2 separate regions of the Homo sapiens genome follow, and region 2 is linked to region 1. Evidence: fine-mapped expression QTL. Tissue or cell type: whole blood. Region 1 holds a variant in brackets; the other region holds the start of a gene. All regions are shown on one strand. Distances are between the middles of the regions.

Region 1 (8,053 bases):
GCAATCAAGCCAAAGTCCCAACAGCCACAATTAGTCCAAAGTAAAAAGAAATGAGTGTGAAACAGAAGAGCGAGAAATTGGGTAGAAAGATGGGGCAGGGCAGGGCTTGCTGTAGGCTAGGAGGGTAAGCAGTGCTTCACTAGCAGAGAAGAGGAGGAGAAAAGCTCTGCTTAAGGAAACCGTGTGGATGGAGGTCAGTGGCAGCAAAGGGGAGGGGAGGGGATGAGAGGCCAGCAGTTGTCTGCCCTGGGGAGTGAAGCCAGTCACGTGGTGTTCCCCAAGCCACTCAGCCTGGCCCAGGAGGCTCTGGGAGGAAAGGTAGACTTTTCTTTGGCACTAAGGTGCTGCTCCTGCTTTTTTTTTTGAGACAGGGTCTTGCTCTGTTGCCCAGGCTGGAGTGCACTGATGTGATCACAGCTCACTGCAGCCTTAACCTCCCTGGTCTCAAGCCATCCTCCCAACTCAGCCTCCTGAGTAGCTGGGACTATAGGTGCATGCCACCACGCCCAGCTAATTTTTGTACTTTTTTGCAGAGACAGGGTCTCTCCATATTGTCCAGGCTGGTGTTGAACTCCTGGGCTGAAGCGACTCCTGCCTCGGCCTCCCAGAGTGTTGGGACTACAGGTGTGAGCCACTGTGCCTGGCCAGGCTGCGCTGCTAATCCCACAAAGGCACAGCACCCGAGCACAGGGATTATCAGGATGGCAGGTCAGGAGGAGGAGTATGGGATGGAAATGGCAGGGAACTGGGCTCAGAAAAACTGGAGGATTCCCCGACTCATGCAGACCAAGGGATGAGGTTCAGCTCAATGTGTGAGCAGGAGCCTGGATTCTGATGTGGAAGAAATGGTGGGGTGGTGGGACAGCCCCGCGGGGACTCACGTTTGCTGATGATCCTATTGAGGATTGTCCGCAACTCCTTCACGCTGATCTCCATGTCCTGGGGAGAGAGAGGAGGTGGCACCTGCCCCAGGAGAGGGCTGCCCCTCACAGGCCCCTCCCAACCTGCCATGCCCCAACCTACCTCCCCTGCCAGCTGCCTGAAGAGGGCCTTGAAGTTCTCGTCAATCTCCTCTTCTGAGAGCACTTGCTGGACCGAGAAGGGGAGAAAGCAGGTAAGAGAGGCCCCGGCCCTGCCCGTGTGGAGGCAGCTGGAGGGAGGGCTGAGGTCACATATCTGCTACAAGTCACTTCGCTTCTCTGAGCCTCACTTTTCTTTTCTTTTCTTTTTGAGATGGAGTTTCACTCTGTCACCCAGGCTGGAGTACAGTGGCGTGATCTCAGCTCACTGCAACCTCCGCCTCCCGGGCTCAAGCCATTCTCCCTGCCTCAGCCTCCTGAGTAGCTGGGATTAAAGGTGCCCACCACCATGCCCGGCTAATTTTTGTATTTTTAGTAGAGACGGGGTTTTGCCATGTTGGCCAGGCTGGTCTCAAACTCCCGACCTCAGGTTATCCGCCCGCCTCAACCTCCCAAAGTGCTAGGATTACAGGCGTGAGCCACTGAGCCCGGCTTGAGTCTCACTTTTCTAATCTGAAAAGGGAATCTCGTTCCTGCCCTGCCCTGCCCCGCCCCATATCCAGCACTCATGTGACCTAAATGAAGGGGATGCTGTTCAGCTCAGTGAGTAAAAGGCAAGAGTTTGGGCCAGGTGCGGTGGCTCACACCTGTAATCCTAGCACTTTGTGAGGCCGAGGTGGGTGGATCACTTGAAGTCAGGAGTTTGAAACCAGCCTGACCAAAATGGCAAAACCCCGTCTCTACTAAAAATACAAAAATTAGCCAGGTGTGGTAACGTGCGCCTGTAATCCCAGCTACTCAGGAGGCTGAGGCAGGAGAATCACCTGAACCCAGGAGACGGAGGTTGCAGTGAGCCGAGATCACGCCATTGCACTCCAGCCTGGGTGACAGAGTGAGACTCTCTCAAAAAAAAAAAAAAAAAAAAGGCAAGAGTTTGGATCCCTACTGTATGGCCTCAGGCAAGTTCCCTAACCTCTGTGAACCTGAATTTCCCATTCAGAGGAGGTATGGTAACAAGACCCGGACAGGGTTGATGTGGGGAGGAAATGAGGTAACACAGGTGAAGTGCTCAGCACAAACCCGCCACCGGGTGAGAGCTCAGGGCCTGTGCCATTAGTATCACAGGTCCTCTGCAAACTGTAAAGTGCTGGGCGGATGAGGGATTAGCACTACTCCTATGGCTTCCACCAGGAGGGGATCTTCCCTGTTAGCAGGAACTCAGGGGACAGGACACCTGGGTCCCCATCACACACCCAGGGGTGAGGAAGAGAGGAGGACGGGGCCTGGTGGGGTGGGACCACGCACCTCATCGGGGAGATTGGCCTGGATCTGGTCATCCAGCTCCCTGCAGAGAGTGGGGAGGAAAGGAGCCAGTCAGAGGGGGACAGCAGAGGGCCTGAGAGGGGAGGCTGGGAGAGGGGAGAGTGGCAGGGGCCAGTCCATGACTCACACAGTCCCAGCACTCTTCTCTGAGAAGAAGCGCAGCACGAAGTCGCCCTCCTTGTTGGGCTCGAAGGTGGAGGGCACCACCACATACTCCCCGGGTGGCAGGCGGAAGCGGGTGCTGACCTCTCGCAGGTTGATGAACTGCTCTGAGCGCGCCCGAGACGCATTGGCCAGGAAGAAGTCACGCTTCAAGTGTACGGCCGGCTGGCCCACCAGCTGGTGGGAGGGAGGAGGGAGCAGGGCTGCAGCTGCCCACTCAGCCCACCCTCAGGGGCCACCCCCAGACCCAGACTCCAGGCTCCTTGTCCTGGCCAAGGGGCTGGAGAGCTGGGGCATGGCTCACTCACAGCCTGTGTGACCCTAACAAGACATTTTGCCTCAGTTTCCTCATCTGTAAAATGTAACAACCCTACTCACTGCAGAGGGTAGAGGAGAGGAGCACCGGATTGCAGATTAGGCATGTGTTTCAATAACACTGTCATTATTATCACTGGGAGCTTTCCCCAGGTCAGGTACTGCAGGGTACTCGGCACCTCATTTGCTGTTCTGCTGTTACACCCATTTTACAGACACAAACACAGGCTCGGAGCTTAAGCAACTGCTCAAGGGTACAGAACTCTCAGCCTGTCTAATGCCCTGCTCCTGACATTGCTGGACCGCCCTAGTTGGCACTTACTTGGTGTAGATGGCAAGGCAGGAAAAGCCTCATGTGTACATGTCAGACAGGGGCTCTGAGGACCAGGGCTCAAATCCAGCTCCCTCACTGACTACCTGTGCTGACCCTCAGGAGAGCAATGTTTGCTCTGCCCACTGAACAGGTGGGGAGAAGCATTTTTCAAGCAGTGAAACAAGGTGACTTCTTAGCTCTCCAGGCCAGGGTGGGTTTGCCACTGGGTTGCTCCCCTCTGGCACCATCAGGGGTGTGTGACTGCAGGTGGGTCATGGTGCCACACCTACCTCCGGAGGGACCTGCAATAGAGAGACAGGGGAAGTCAGAGATGTGTGTTTGTCCCAGGGCGGGGTCACAGTGCATGCTGGGCAGAGGTCTTGAGTTCTTAGACGGGACTGATGGGATAAGGAGGCAGAAGGCAGGGCCCTGGGGACCCAGATCTGGTCCCTGCACCACAGCAGGGCCCCAGGAGGGAGGGCTCAGGCAGGGTCCTCTTGGTCCTGGGAATGCTTGCCCTAGGACTCCATTCTGAGTCAGAGGCTCCAGGCCAGCCCCCGGGGTGGCCAACTGCAATGTTCCAAAGCCCAGGGACAGGAAAGGGCCACCGCAGGCTGCTGCCAGGGGGTTTGGGTGTGGGCCAAGACTGCGACCAGGGAGGTCCAGAAGTTTCTCTCCCTGTCTTGAGGGCAGTGTGTGAAGCAGGGCAGATACAGGGCAAGAGCAAGGAGTTCTAATCCCAGAGCGACTGGCACAGCCTCACCTTGGCCGACAGGCCCTCCCTATCCCCTATCTTTCCCCTGCCAGCTTCTGCTCACAGCTTCCAAGACGGAGGGCTCAGTACTCCCAGGCATCAGCTGAGCCAGCTCCCTCCTCCAAGAGCAGCAGGCCGCCCTCTAAGCGTGAGGTGAATCCCAGAATCTCCCTTCCCTGAGCCAACCCCCTTCCTCTCTTTCGGCCAGAGGGCCTCAGCAGGTGCCTCCTGGAGGCTGAGATTTCCCAGCCCTCAGGATGGTGGGGGGAGTGGAGGGGAATTTGTGGGGAAGGGCATGGTCCCTGGCGCCCCCTGGTGGAAGCCCGCCTGCACTGCGGGTCGGGGGCGCCAGGTCCTCTGCCTGCTCAGTGAGA[T/A]CCACCGGTGATCCACCCTCCTGACCTCGTAGACCGCGAAGCCAATAGTCTCCATGTCGCGGCCGAAGCGGCGCTCGCGGCGACGGTGCTTCTGCATAAGGGCGAGCACGAAGCTGCAGCCTGACTCGCGGTCCCCGTAGTCGTCCGGGTCATCCGTCTCATCCAGCCGGATCTTGAACTGAGGGTTCACCCAGAAGGTGGCTGCGGGCAGGTGAGGAGGCGGGGATCAGAGGCAGGGCGGGGCAGAGCCAATTGGCCCCCAAGCCTCCTCAGCACGTCCCTGTGCACGCATTCATTCATTCAACAAATATTATTGAGCACCTGGAACATGCAGGGTGATGGGCAGGCTGGGCCAGGCTCGGTCCATGCCCTCACGGCCTGCATTTGGAAACTAGAGGCTTAAGTCTGAGCAAGTCCGTTAGGTTAGCGAGCAGAGCAACTGCAAAAAAAAGCAAGCAGGAGTAGATCAGAGTAGGGGACCTATGCGCTGAGACCCGAAGGGGCTGCCCTGGGAAGCTGCTGAGAAGCAGAAGCCAGGCGGAGGGCACCCCAGAGCAGAGGTGAGGAAGGGCCCCACGCATCTGCGGACAGGGAGCACTTACGGAGGCTCTAGGAAACACGGAGACCCAGGGAGGCCGCAGAGCTCCCAGGAGCCGGCCAGGGACTAGGGCGTGTGGACTGAAGCAAAGGGTAAGAACCCTCCCACAGCTTGCAGCGAGGAGGCATGTGACTGCATTAGGACTCTAAAAGGTGGCTCGAGTGCTGCGTGGACAACAGCTTAGAAGAAGGCAAGAGAAAAAGCAGGGGTCCGACAGGAGGCCACAGCCAGCCAGCAAGGGAAGGCAGGGGCTTGCATTTCTGGCAGTTGGGTGATTTTGCTGCCTAAAGAACCTTCTTGACTAAAACAACCCAGTGCGGGATAGAACGGTAAACTGCAAAACTTATTTTTAAAGGCACTAATAAGCCACTGCATCCCCTGCCCTCCATTGACAATAATAATAATAATAATAAAGATAATAACAACTTGGGTGAGGATGTGGAGGGATGGGAACCTCACAGGATGCCGGTGGGAATGTAAAATGTTGCAGCTGCTCCGAAGAACATTCTGGCACTTTCTCAAAAGGTTAAACACAGAGCTTCATATGACCCAGAAATTCCACTCCAAGCTCTATACCCAAGAGAAATGAAAACGTGTCCATGCAAAGCCTTGTTCATAAGAGTGTGGCAGGGCGCGGTGGCTCACACCTGTAATCCCAGCGCTTTGGGAGGCCCAGGCAGACGGATCACTTGAGGTCAGGAGTTTTGAGACCAGCCTGGACAATATGGTGAAACTCCACCTCTACTAAAAATACAAAAATTAGCTGGGCATGGTGGCCCATGCCTGTAGTCCCAGCTACTTGGGAGGCTGAGGCAGGAGAATCGCTTAAACCTGGGAGGCGGAGGTTGCAGTGAGCTGAGATCGTGCCACAGCACTCCAGCCTGGGCGACAGAGTAAGATTCAGTTTCAAAAACAAACAACCCACAAAACTAGCTGGGCGTGGTGGCACATGCCTGTAATCCCAGCTACTCAGGAGGCTGAGGTAGGAGAATCGCTTGAACCCAGAGGCAGAGGTAGCAGTGAGCCGAGATCGTGCCACTGCACTCCAGCCTGGGCAAGAGAGCAAGATTCCATTTAAAAAAAAAAAGAGAGAATGTTAATGGCTGCATTATTTATAACAGCTGAGTGGATGAAACTACCCAATTATCCATCAACTGAAGAGTGAATATACAAAATATGGAGCCAAACAATGGGATATTATTTGGCAACAAAGAGGAACAACATTCTGATCCATGCTACAACATGGAGGAACCTTGCAAACATTATGCTAAATGAAAAAGGCCAGCCACAAAGGACCATGTATTATATGATCCTGTTCACATGAAATATCCCAGTAGGCAAATCCATAGAGATAAGAAGTAGATTTGTGGTTGCCAGGGCTGCTGGGAGGGCTGGGGAGTCATGGCTAAGGAGTACCTCATTTGTTTTTGGGATAATGAAATGTTCTAAAATTGATGTGGTGATGGTTGCACAACTCTGTGAATATACTTTAAATAGTATATTTAAATTGTATATTTAATAGTATATTTAAATCGTAATATATGGCCAGGTGCAGTGGCTCACACCTGTAATCCCAGCACTTTGGGAGGCTGAGGCAGCTGGATCACCTAAGGTCAGGAGTTTGAGACCAGCCTGGCCAACGTGGTGAAACCCCGTCTGTACTAAAAATGCAAAAATTAGGTGGCCATGGTGGCAGGTGCCTGTAATCCCAGCTACCTGGAAGGCTGAGGTAGGAGAATTGCGTGAACCCAGGAGACAGAGGTTGCAGTGAGCCGAGATCTGGCCACTGCACTCCAGCCTGGGTGACAGAGCGAGACTCCATCTCAATAAACAAACAAACAAACAAATAAATAAATAAATAAAATCGTAATATACTTCAGTACATTTAAATTGTATATTTAATAGTATATTTAAATTGCAACTTTAAATAGGTGACTTGTATGGTATGTGAATTAAGTATCAATAAAGATATTTTTAAAAAATAGAAAGTAGGAACCCTGCAAGGTAAATAATGCTAAAGGGCTTCTGTAGACCCCTGAACCCCAGGGTATAGAAGCAGATGATAAACATCTACCTGAGGTAGAGAATCCAACAGGAAGTTCCTGCAATTAAACTGGAACCCCCGTCAGGAATGTCAGCAATGAAGTATGAAAGAAAATTAGGCTGGGCGCAGTGGCTCACGCCTGTAATCCCAGCACTGTGGGAGGCCGAGGCGGGTGGATCATTTGAGGTCAGGAGTTTGAGACCAGCCTGGCCAACATGGTAAAACCCATTCTCTACTGAAAAAATACAGAAATTAGCCAGGCATGGTGGTGGGCACCTGTAGTCCCACTTACTCGGGAGGATGAGGCAGGAAAATCGCTTGAACCCGGGAGGTGGAGGTTGCAGTGAGCCAAGATCATGCCACTGCACTCCAGCCTGGGCAACAGACCAAGACCGTGTCTCAAAAAAAAAAAAACAAAAACAAAAGCCGGGCGCGGTGGCTCACGCCTGTAATCCCAGCACTTTGGGAGGCCGAGACGGGCGGATCACGAGGTCAGGAGATCGAGACCATCCTGGCTAACACGGTGAAACCCCGTCTCTACTAAAAATACAAAAAAATTAGCCGGGCGTGGTGGCAGGTGCCTGTAGTCCCAGCTACTCGGGAGGCTGAGGCAGGAGAATGGCATGAACCTGGGAGGCGGAGCTTGCAGTGAGCCGAGATCGCGCCACTGCACTCAAGCCTGGGCGACAGAGCGAGACTCCGTCTCAAAAACAAAAAAAAAGAAAGAAAGAAAATTAAACCTCCCTGGAGGGAAGGAAAAAATAACCTCAAGCCAGGCTTCACATGACCTTTCAGTTTTAATTCACACTGCCTGTGAAACCTTAAGAAGATAATTTAGTCTTAAAAGCGTCCTGCACCAGGCACAGTGGCTGATGGACTGTAATCCCAGTGTTTTGGGAGACCGAGGTGGGAGGACTGCTTGAGCCCAGGAGTTCAAGACCAGCCTGGGCAACATAGGGAGACCCCATCACTACAAAAAGTAAGAAAATGAGCCAGACGACCAGGCGTGGTGGCTCACACCTGTAATCTCAGCACTTTGGGAGGCCAAGATGGGCGGATCATGAGGTCAGGAGATCAAGACCATCCTGGCTAACATGGTGAAACCCCATCTCTACTAAAAACACAAAAAATTACCCGGGCGTGGTGGTGGG
Region 2 (8,053 bases), 35 kb after region 1:
AGGGATCAAGTCTTATTCCTAAGTAAACCTGGCCCTGAAGGCATTTCTAGACTAAATAAAGAGCTGTCTTCCATTCAAGTTTTGTTTCCCAATATGTTCCTGGCCTTTTTTTTTTTTTTTTTTGAGACAGAGTCTCACTCTGTCGTCCAGGCTGGAGTGCAGTGGCATGATCTCAACTCGCTGTAACCTCCGCCTCCACAGTTCAAGCAATTCTCCCACCTTGGCGTCCCGAGTAGCTGGGATTATAGGCACCTGCCACCATGCCTGGCTAGTTTCTGTATTTTTAGTAGCAAAGGGGTTTCACCATGTTGGCCAGGCTGTTTTTGAACTCCTGACCTCAAGTGATCCACCCGGCTCAGCCTCCCAAAGTGCTGGGATTACAGGTGTGAGCCACCACGTTCGGCTCCCTGGCCCTCTTCTAAGGGCTGCAGATACCTCATCTCATTTAATCCCATCTAGACTGTGTAGATCTCATCATCCATAGGCATGGATAGCACAGAGATGAAACTGAGGCTCAGAATAACTGGCCACCAATGGGAAGGGGCCAAGCTGTTACAGAGCCTGTGCTCACATGTTGTAACCCTGGTAGATACCCCCTCCCCACCCCAACCTTGGGTCAAGGAACCAGGCCAGGACCTAAGCACAGTTGGTGTCCTGTGGACATGAATTTATTAGAGGGGACTGGCACCAGAGTGGGCACAAGCTGCAGGCTGGGAGGAAGGGGCAGGGGTGGGAGCACAGCCAATGGTGTGTCAGTCAGTGGGCCAGCAGGCGTGCTGTTCTTCACCCTGCAGAGCTTCAGTGCCCAGGGCGTGCCGGAGGCTTTGGGAAGACTGGGGAGAGGAAAGAGTGAGGCTCAGAGAAGAAACCTGCCAAGCTCACACGGGAGGGGCAGCACGTCGACCCCAGGCCCATGGCCCTCTCTCTCATATTGTTGGTCCTCACTCCTGCCTCCCAAGCTCCCACACCAGCCCCCAGCTCCTGTCCCATCCTGCACTCACTGCGGAGGGAGTAGGTGCCTGGTTCCAGTTGCATCTGGGGAGGCAAGACGATGAGAAAGTCCCCACCCCAGGCGTTTTTGACCCTTGAGAGATAATTTTGGGAGGGAGGGCGATGACATTCAGAGGTCAGAGAAGGGCACTTGGATGACACAGGCTTAAGCAAGTGGCTGCTGCAGTGCTGGGGCAAACCACAGGGGGAACAGTGGGGCGGCGAGAGGCCAGGGCCCCGGGGAAGGCGAACAGGGACCTGTGGACAGACCCTCTGAACCCCACCATGGTGGGGGCGCCGGTCCCGAGTCCAAGCCCAGTGGAATGGCTCCTTTGCCATGACCTGGGAGGAGCAGAGTGGACAGTAAATGGGGTGGGAACCCCAGCCTTCCCCACACCCCAGGTTGCCTCCCAGCCTCACCTCCTCACAGCACTGGCGGCTCACAACAGCCCGGAAACCCATCCGTGCCCAAAGCTTATCCCTCTGGTGCAGGAATTTCCCCACTCGTAAACACCAATCTTTTCCCAGGGCCCATGGAAAAATCTCACATTTGGGGCCCTCCAGGTCCTCCTCCATGTCGTTTGCAAGGTACCTAGCCACAGAGGCACAAGGTCAGGGAGCAGAGGCCACACATCTGCCCTGTCCCATCTGACACCTCCAGCAAATGCCTCCACTGCCTGCCCCCACCACTCACAGGGCCAAGAACAGGCTGCTGTGGGTATACTCGCTGAGCTTCAGGTGGGCGCGCTGGAAGTAGACCAGCACCATGGCCAGGAGATACTGCAGAGACAGATCGGGGTGGGGGGTTAGTTATTCTCTGAGGAGGAGGGGCTTGCACCCAGGTTCATTTGCACCCAGGGAGGTTTTGCTGCAGGGAAAGAAAGTCAGTAAAATGGTGGGAAGTGGTGTGCAAAGATGAGGGGGTAAGGATGGAAGGTGAGTGGCTCTCCCTACCAGACCAGGGCACTCAATTCCCACCAACTCAACCTGACCCTCAAGAGACCCCCAGCCTGTACTCCCTCACCTTATCTGAAATCTGGAAGCAGGGGTCTTTGGAGAGGAATTCCTGGACAAAACTGTCCTCTGAGGGTAGAGAAGACATGACAGGACGCAGGTTACCACCACCTCCATGGAGAAGAGTGGCATCAGAAGCTCCAAAGCCCAAGCCACCACTGAACCCTCTCTCTCTTTCTCTTTTTCTCCCTTTTTCTCTTTCTCTCTCTCTTTCTTAATATAAATAGAAATGGAGTCTCACTATGTTGACCAGGCTGGTCTTGAACTCCTGGCCTGAAGTGATACTCCCATTTCAGCCTCCCAAAATGTTGGGATTATAGGTATGACTCACGGTGCCTGGCCCTGAATCCAGTTTCTGAGAGGACACCCCTCCCACCTGCCTAAGCTGGGATACCTGAGAGGGAGAGGGTCAGAGGTCTCAGATGTCTGTACAGGCAGGTGAGACCCCACACTTCACATCTGCTTTCACACTTGACCTCACGGCCCCTCCCGTGCCAGCCCTCCAAACTCACCCAGAAGGCTGAGGAAGGCCTGGACCTCCTGGTGCTGGCGAAAACGGAGGAACCCATTGCCCCCACCTTGCCGGCTGCAGCCCCCCAGCTCTACCTGGGTGGTAACTACAGGGGAAGTGGTGGGGTCTTGGGAGTCACTCATCTCATAGGAGATGGAGATGGGGCAGGGTGACCTGTAGAGAAAGGAGGCTCAGGACTTAGCATGTACCCCCGTGATGCTCACAAATCAAGAGGGTGGTGACAGGGGCCAGGACGGTGGAGGGGTGGGTGCAGAGACTTGGGGGCTCAGAACAGAAGGCAGCCGGGATGCAACAAGAGTGGGGAGGCCAGAAAAGAAGCAAAGAGTTGCTATAGGTGAGGGTGTGGCACCCTCACCCTCCTCCTGGCACCCCAGGACAGGCCAGAGTAACAGCAGCAACAAGCACCGCTGAGGGCTTCCTAAGTGCCTGGGGCTGTGCTTAAGGGCCTTATCTTATTCCATCCTGGTAAGGAGGTAAGTTTAACTCAGACCGGTCGTCAAACGAGGAAACTGAAGCTGAGGCCTAACAGCCGGTTAAAAGTGAAGCCCTTGGTCTCCAAAACCCCAAGAGGTTTTTTGGTTTTTGTTTGTTTGTTTTGAGACACAGTCTCTCTCTGTCGCCCAGACTGGAGTGCAGTGGCGCGATCTCGGCTCACTGCAACCTCCGCCTCCCGGGTTCAACTGATTCTCCAGCCTGAGCCTCCCGAGTAGCTGGGATTACAGGCATGCGCCATGCCACCACGCCCGGCTAATTTTTTTTGTATTTTTTTGGTAGAGACAGGGTTTCACCGTGTTGGCCAGGCTGGTCTCACACTCCTGACCTCCCAAAGTGCTGGGATTGCAGGCGTGAGCCACTGCGCCTGGCCAAAAAAAAAGAAAAAAAAAACCCAAGAGTTTAACTGCTCCTCTAGGCCCCAACTCACAACCACCCCCGACCCCTCACCAAAGCAGAGTTGAAAGGGCCACTGATCCCTTACACCGAGGGGAAACTGAGGCCCTCAGGGAGGAATGAAATTAGAAAAATACCTGGATTTAGAGCAAGTTGATGGGGCCACTTCAAACATTTCAAGCTCCCGTCCTAAACCCACCCTCATCCCTGAGAGAGAGAAGCCAACCACGGGGCCGAGGAGAACGTGCGGTCGACCACCCCAGGGCCAATCTGGGCCCCTCCATCTAGGCGCCCGCAAGCAACCCAGCCTCCTCCTGCAGCGAGCCTTACCCGAGCTCAGGAATGGCCCAGAGCATAACACCAACGCCGCCGCGAGTGCGCTTATATAGCCTGAGGGCGGCCCTGCCCAAAGCAGCCCGTCCACCAATCAGGGCCTTCCTGGGGGGCGAGGCTTGGCCTTCACCGCCTGCCTCTCTGCCAGTGAGTCCAGTCGGCACCCAGCTGTGGCTCCCCAGGGTTTGAAAGCCTCTCCAAAGCTTCATCAACTACAAGAGGGGTGAAGGCAGGCCAGCTGGACCCCAGGGCCTAAGGCCCCATAGGACAGGCAGGGAGCTAGGATCCCTGTTCCCCTCTTGACAAATGCAGCGCCAAGGTGCTGAGCCGGGATATGAGACCCGGACTGCGAGGGCCTGGTGGGCGAGTTTTTTTTCATTGATTGTGCCTTGCTAGGGCAGGGTCTCTGGCTCTCTATGGGTGTCTCTGAATCTCCTGGCCTCCTTGAGTCTCTAGGTTTCACTGAGGCCCCCCGAGTCTCTCTTTTGTTTCTTATTTTATTTTTCCCCTCGTAACACAGAACAAGCTGCCTGGGTCTCAGTGGGCCTCTGAGTCTCTCAGTTTCTTGTTGCCTCTGGTGTCTGGATGTCTGTGGATCTCTGGGTCCTTTGTTTTCTCTCTGATCTCTGGTCTCTGGTGTATCTGCTGTTTCATGGTCTCCCCCAGGCCGCCTCCCAGGCTCCCTGAGGCCGTGAAGGCCTTTCTAGACCAGCTGGTCTGCATCAGGCCATCCTGTTTGTGTGTGTGCACGCATTTGAAGTCGGCCTCCCCTAGAAAGGAAGTAGTGAGTGGGGCAGCATCCATAGCCCGTTCACTAAACACCTACTGCTGCCTACTGAGGAGTCTGTGATGGAATCAGCTCACGTGTTCCTCACAGCAAGCCCGTGAAGTTGATGAGAATGATGAGAAGCCTCATTTTGTCAGCGAACAAACAACTAACACACAGAGTTTGGGTTGCTGACCGACAGGCTGAGTAACTTCCTGCCAGCCACTCAGCTGGTAAGTAGAGATAGAGTTCCAGCCTGGCTGCTGGGCCCACACGCTGGGTAGCCTGGCTGTGTGGTCTACAGCTGTTCCTGGACGCTGCCTGCACAGAGAAGGTGTTCCATGAAACCGAATGAATCTCCTAGACCAGCTGTGTTTTCAACTGTTCTCCTCCTCCCCCAGTAATTAAGGTTAGAGATCAGGAAGGTGTACCAAAAAGAAGCCTGGGAGTGGGCTAGTCACTTTAACTTTGGGAGGGCCTTCAGGCTGATTTCCTTCAGTGCCACCCCTGGAGATCTGACACCGATCTCCCACACTGGGGAGAATATTTGTTTTTACTTTTTTTTTTTTTTTTTTTGAGACGGAGTCTCGCTGTGTTGCCCAGGCCGGAGTGCAGTGGCCCAATCCCGGCTCCCTGCAACTTCCACCTCCAGGGCTCAAGCAATTCTCCTGCCTCAGCCTCCCGAGTAGCTGGGACTACAGGCATGTGCCGCCATGCCTGGCAATTTTTTTGTTTTGTTTTGTTCTCCTGACCTCATGATCCACCCGCCTTGGCCTCCCAGAATGCTGGGATTACAGGCATGAGCCACCATGCCCAGCCTTTCTCTTTCACTTTTCAGAATCCCATGATTCACTGGGCTCTTCAATCTGCCCAGATAATCTCCCCATCTCAAGATCCTTAACTTGGCTGGGAGAGGTGGCTTACCCCTGTAATCCCAGCATTGTGGGAGGCAGAGGAGAGCAGATCACCTGAGGTCAGGAGTTCAAGACCAGCCTGGTAAACATGGCAAAACCCCTCCTCTACTAAAAATACAAAAATTAGCGGGGCATGGTGGTGCATGCCTGTAATCCTAACTACTCGGGAGGCTGAGGCAGGAGAATTGCTTGAGCCCTGGGGGTGGAGGTTGCAGTGAGCTGAGATCATGCCATTGCACTCCAGTCTGGGCAACAGAGCAAGACTTGGTCTCAAAAAAAGATCCTTAACCATCTGCAAAGTCTTTTTTGCCATGTGAGATAACATATTCTCAGGTCTGGGAAGTGAAATGTAGCCATCTTTGGGAGTCCATTATTCTGCCTGCTACAATTATCACAGCAAAATTTATTCTATGCTAACTAATATACTATTTATAAAATTTATATTCATGTAAATGTATATATAATTTGTAAAATCATATATTAATATTGCATGCTATAAAGGATACACGTAAAAGGATATAAAAGAATACACATAAAACATAATAACATACTACCAGCTCAAAAAATATATATATGGCCAGGTCCATTGGCTCACGCCTATAATCTCAGCACTTTTTGGAGGCCGAGACAGGAGGATCATTTGAGTTCAGGAGTTAGAGACTAACCTGGGCAATACATCAAGGCCCCATCTCTACCAAAAATAAACTAGCCTGGCATGGTGGCACGTGACTGCAGTCCTATCTACTCAAGAGGCTGAGGTGGGAGGATCACTTGAGCCCAGGAGTTCAAGGCTGCAGTGAGCTATTATCATGCCATTCTACCCAGCCTGGGTGACACAGCAAGACCCTGTCTCTAAAACATGAATAAATAAATAAATAAGAATATTAAAAATTTCAAAATATAAAGATAGAAAAAATAATATGCAATTACTAAAAGAAAGCTGGGATAACTACACTAATATATTAAAACAACTTTAGGCCGGGCGCGGTGGCTTATGCCTGTAATCCCAGCACGTTGGGAGGCCGAGGCAGGTAGATCATTTGAGGTCAGGAGTTCAAGACCAGCCTGGCCAACATGGTGAAATTCCATTTCTACTAAAAATACAAAAATTAGGTGGGTGGTAGTGGCGAATGCCTGTAATCCCAGCTACTTGGGAGGCTGTGGCAGGAGAATCGCTTGAGCCTAGAAGGCAGAGGTTTTGGTGAGCCAAGATTGTACCACTGCACTCCAGCCTGGGTGACAGAGTGAGAACTTGTCTCAAAAAAAAAAAAAAACAAAAAACAAACAAAAAAACACAACTTTGGACAAAAAGCATAACTAGGGAGAAAGAGAATTTATGTAGTGATTTTAAAAATATACAGCCGGATGTGGTGGTGTGCACCTGTAGTGCTGGTCTGGGCAACATAGGGAGATCCTGTCGGTAAGAAGAGGAGGGGAAGGAGGGGAGGGAAAATAAAGGAAAGGAAAGAGGCAGGAAGAGAAAAATAAAAGGAAAAAGGAAGGAGAAGAAAGAAAGAAGGGAGGGAGGGAAGGAAGGAAGAAAAAAAAGTGTATAATTACCTAACCAGAATCCAGGTAAAGAAAAAAATATATAGTAATTTGTTTACTCCTAAAAATAAAGTCAATAAGCAAGAAACCGCATGTGTGTGTGTCTGTGTGTGTGTGTGTGTAAAATCAACAGAACCACACGGAAAAACAAATCACAATCATAATTGTAGATATGATGGCACATGCAAGGCAAAAAAGTTAGCAAAGCAGTAAAAGATATGAAGAATATGATGAAGAAATTTGACCTAGTGGACGAATAAGCTGGCACTGCACCCAACAAAGGCAGGAAAGCACGCACAGAACATCTTCCTAAAAATTAATCAAATGTACCCGGGCGAGGTGGCTCACGCCGATAATCCCAGCACTTTGGGAGGCCGAAGCAGGCGGATCACAAGGTCAGGAGTTAGCGACCAGTCTGGCCAACATAGTGAAACCCCGTTTCTACTGAAAATACAAAAAGCCGGGCGTGGTGGCGGGCGCCTGTAGTCCCAACTACTCAGGTGGGTGAGGCAAGAGAATGGCGTGAACCCGGGAGGCGGAGGTTGCAGTGAGCGGAGGTCGCGCCACTGCTCCAGCCTGGGTAACAGAGCAAGACTCCGTCTCAAAAAAAAAAAAAAAAAAAAAAAAAAAAAAAAAAAAGAAAAAGAAAAAGAAAAAGAAAGAAAGAAAATATTGTCTGTCAAAGTTGGAGGACACAACTAGTAATTCTTAGAGAGGAATTTATGACCTCAAACGCGCGTGTTAGAAAATAAGAAAAGCTGTCACGCTGATGAACTGAACTCCATCTTAAAAAGTCACAAGCCAGCCAGGGGGACTTCCGGGTCCTGAGGCCCAAGGGGCTGCCTGGGTCCCCATCCGCCAACTTTTGCTGTCCACACAGCCCCAGACAACAAGAAAGGAAAAATAAAACGCTGCCAAAACCACAGCGTCGGCATAACTTGAAAGCAGAGAAGGTCCAAACTTCAAGATAAATGTAAATAAAAAGAAAGCGACCATATCCCCGCACGCCGTCGTGCGCTGCGGCCTCTCCCAGGCACGAGGCTTTGTGCCAAGAAAAGCTGGGGAAGG

Evidence for each region. PIP is the estimated chance that this variant, and not a neighbour inherited with it, causes the effect.
Region 2: it holds the start of SPDYC, and the variant in region 1 is fine-mapped to the expression of SPDYC in whole blood (INTERVAL, PIP above 0.99).

The regions. Positions count from the first base shown.
Region 1 is chr11:65,201,091-65,209,143 of GRCh38, reverse strand. CAPN1 (calpain 1) reads right to left here. Exons shown (of 22, transcript NM_005186.4): 11 at 4,286-4,461; 12 at 3,423-3,434; 13 at 2,470-2,681; 14 at 2,325-2,364; 15 at 1,024-1,089; 16 at 882-939. Among named protein-coding and RNA genes, the nearest start is that of CAPN1, 23 kb to the right of the region's middle. RefSeq lists enhancers at 3,965-4,154, 4,196-5,183. The variant T/A (reference allele first, on the strand shown) is at 4,261.
Region 2 is chr11:65,165,963-65,174,015 of GRCh38, reverse strand. It overlaps SPDYC (speedy/RINGO cell cycle regulator family member C), which reads right to left and starts at 3,783. Exons shown (of 7, transcript NM_001008778.3): 1 at 3,755-3,783; 2 at 2,517-2,689; 3 at 2,015-2,073; 4 at 1,685-1,770; 5 at 1,411-1,582; 6 at 1,002-1,332; 7 at 642-833. The coding sequence starts at 2,658. The coding sequence ends at 799.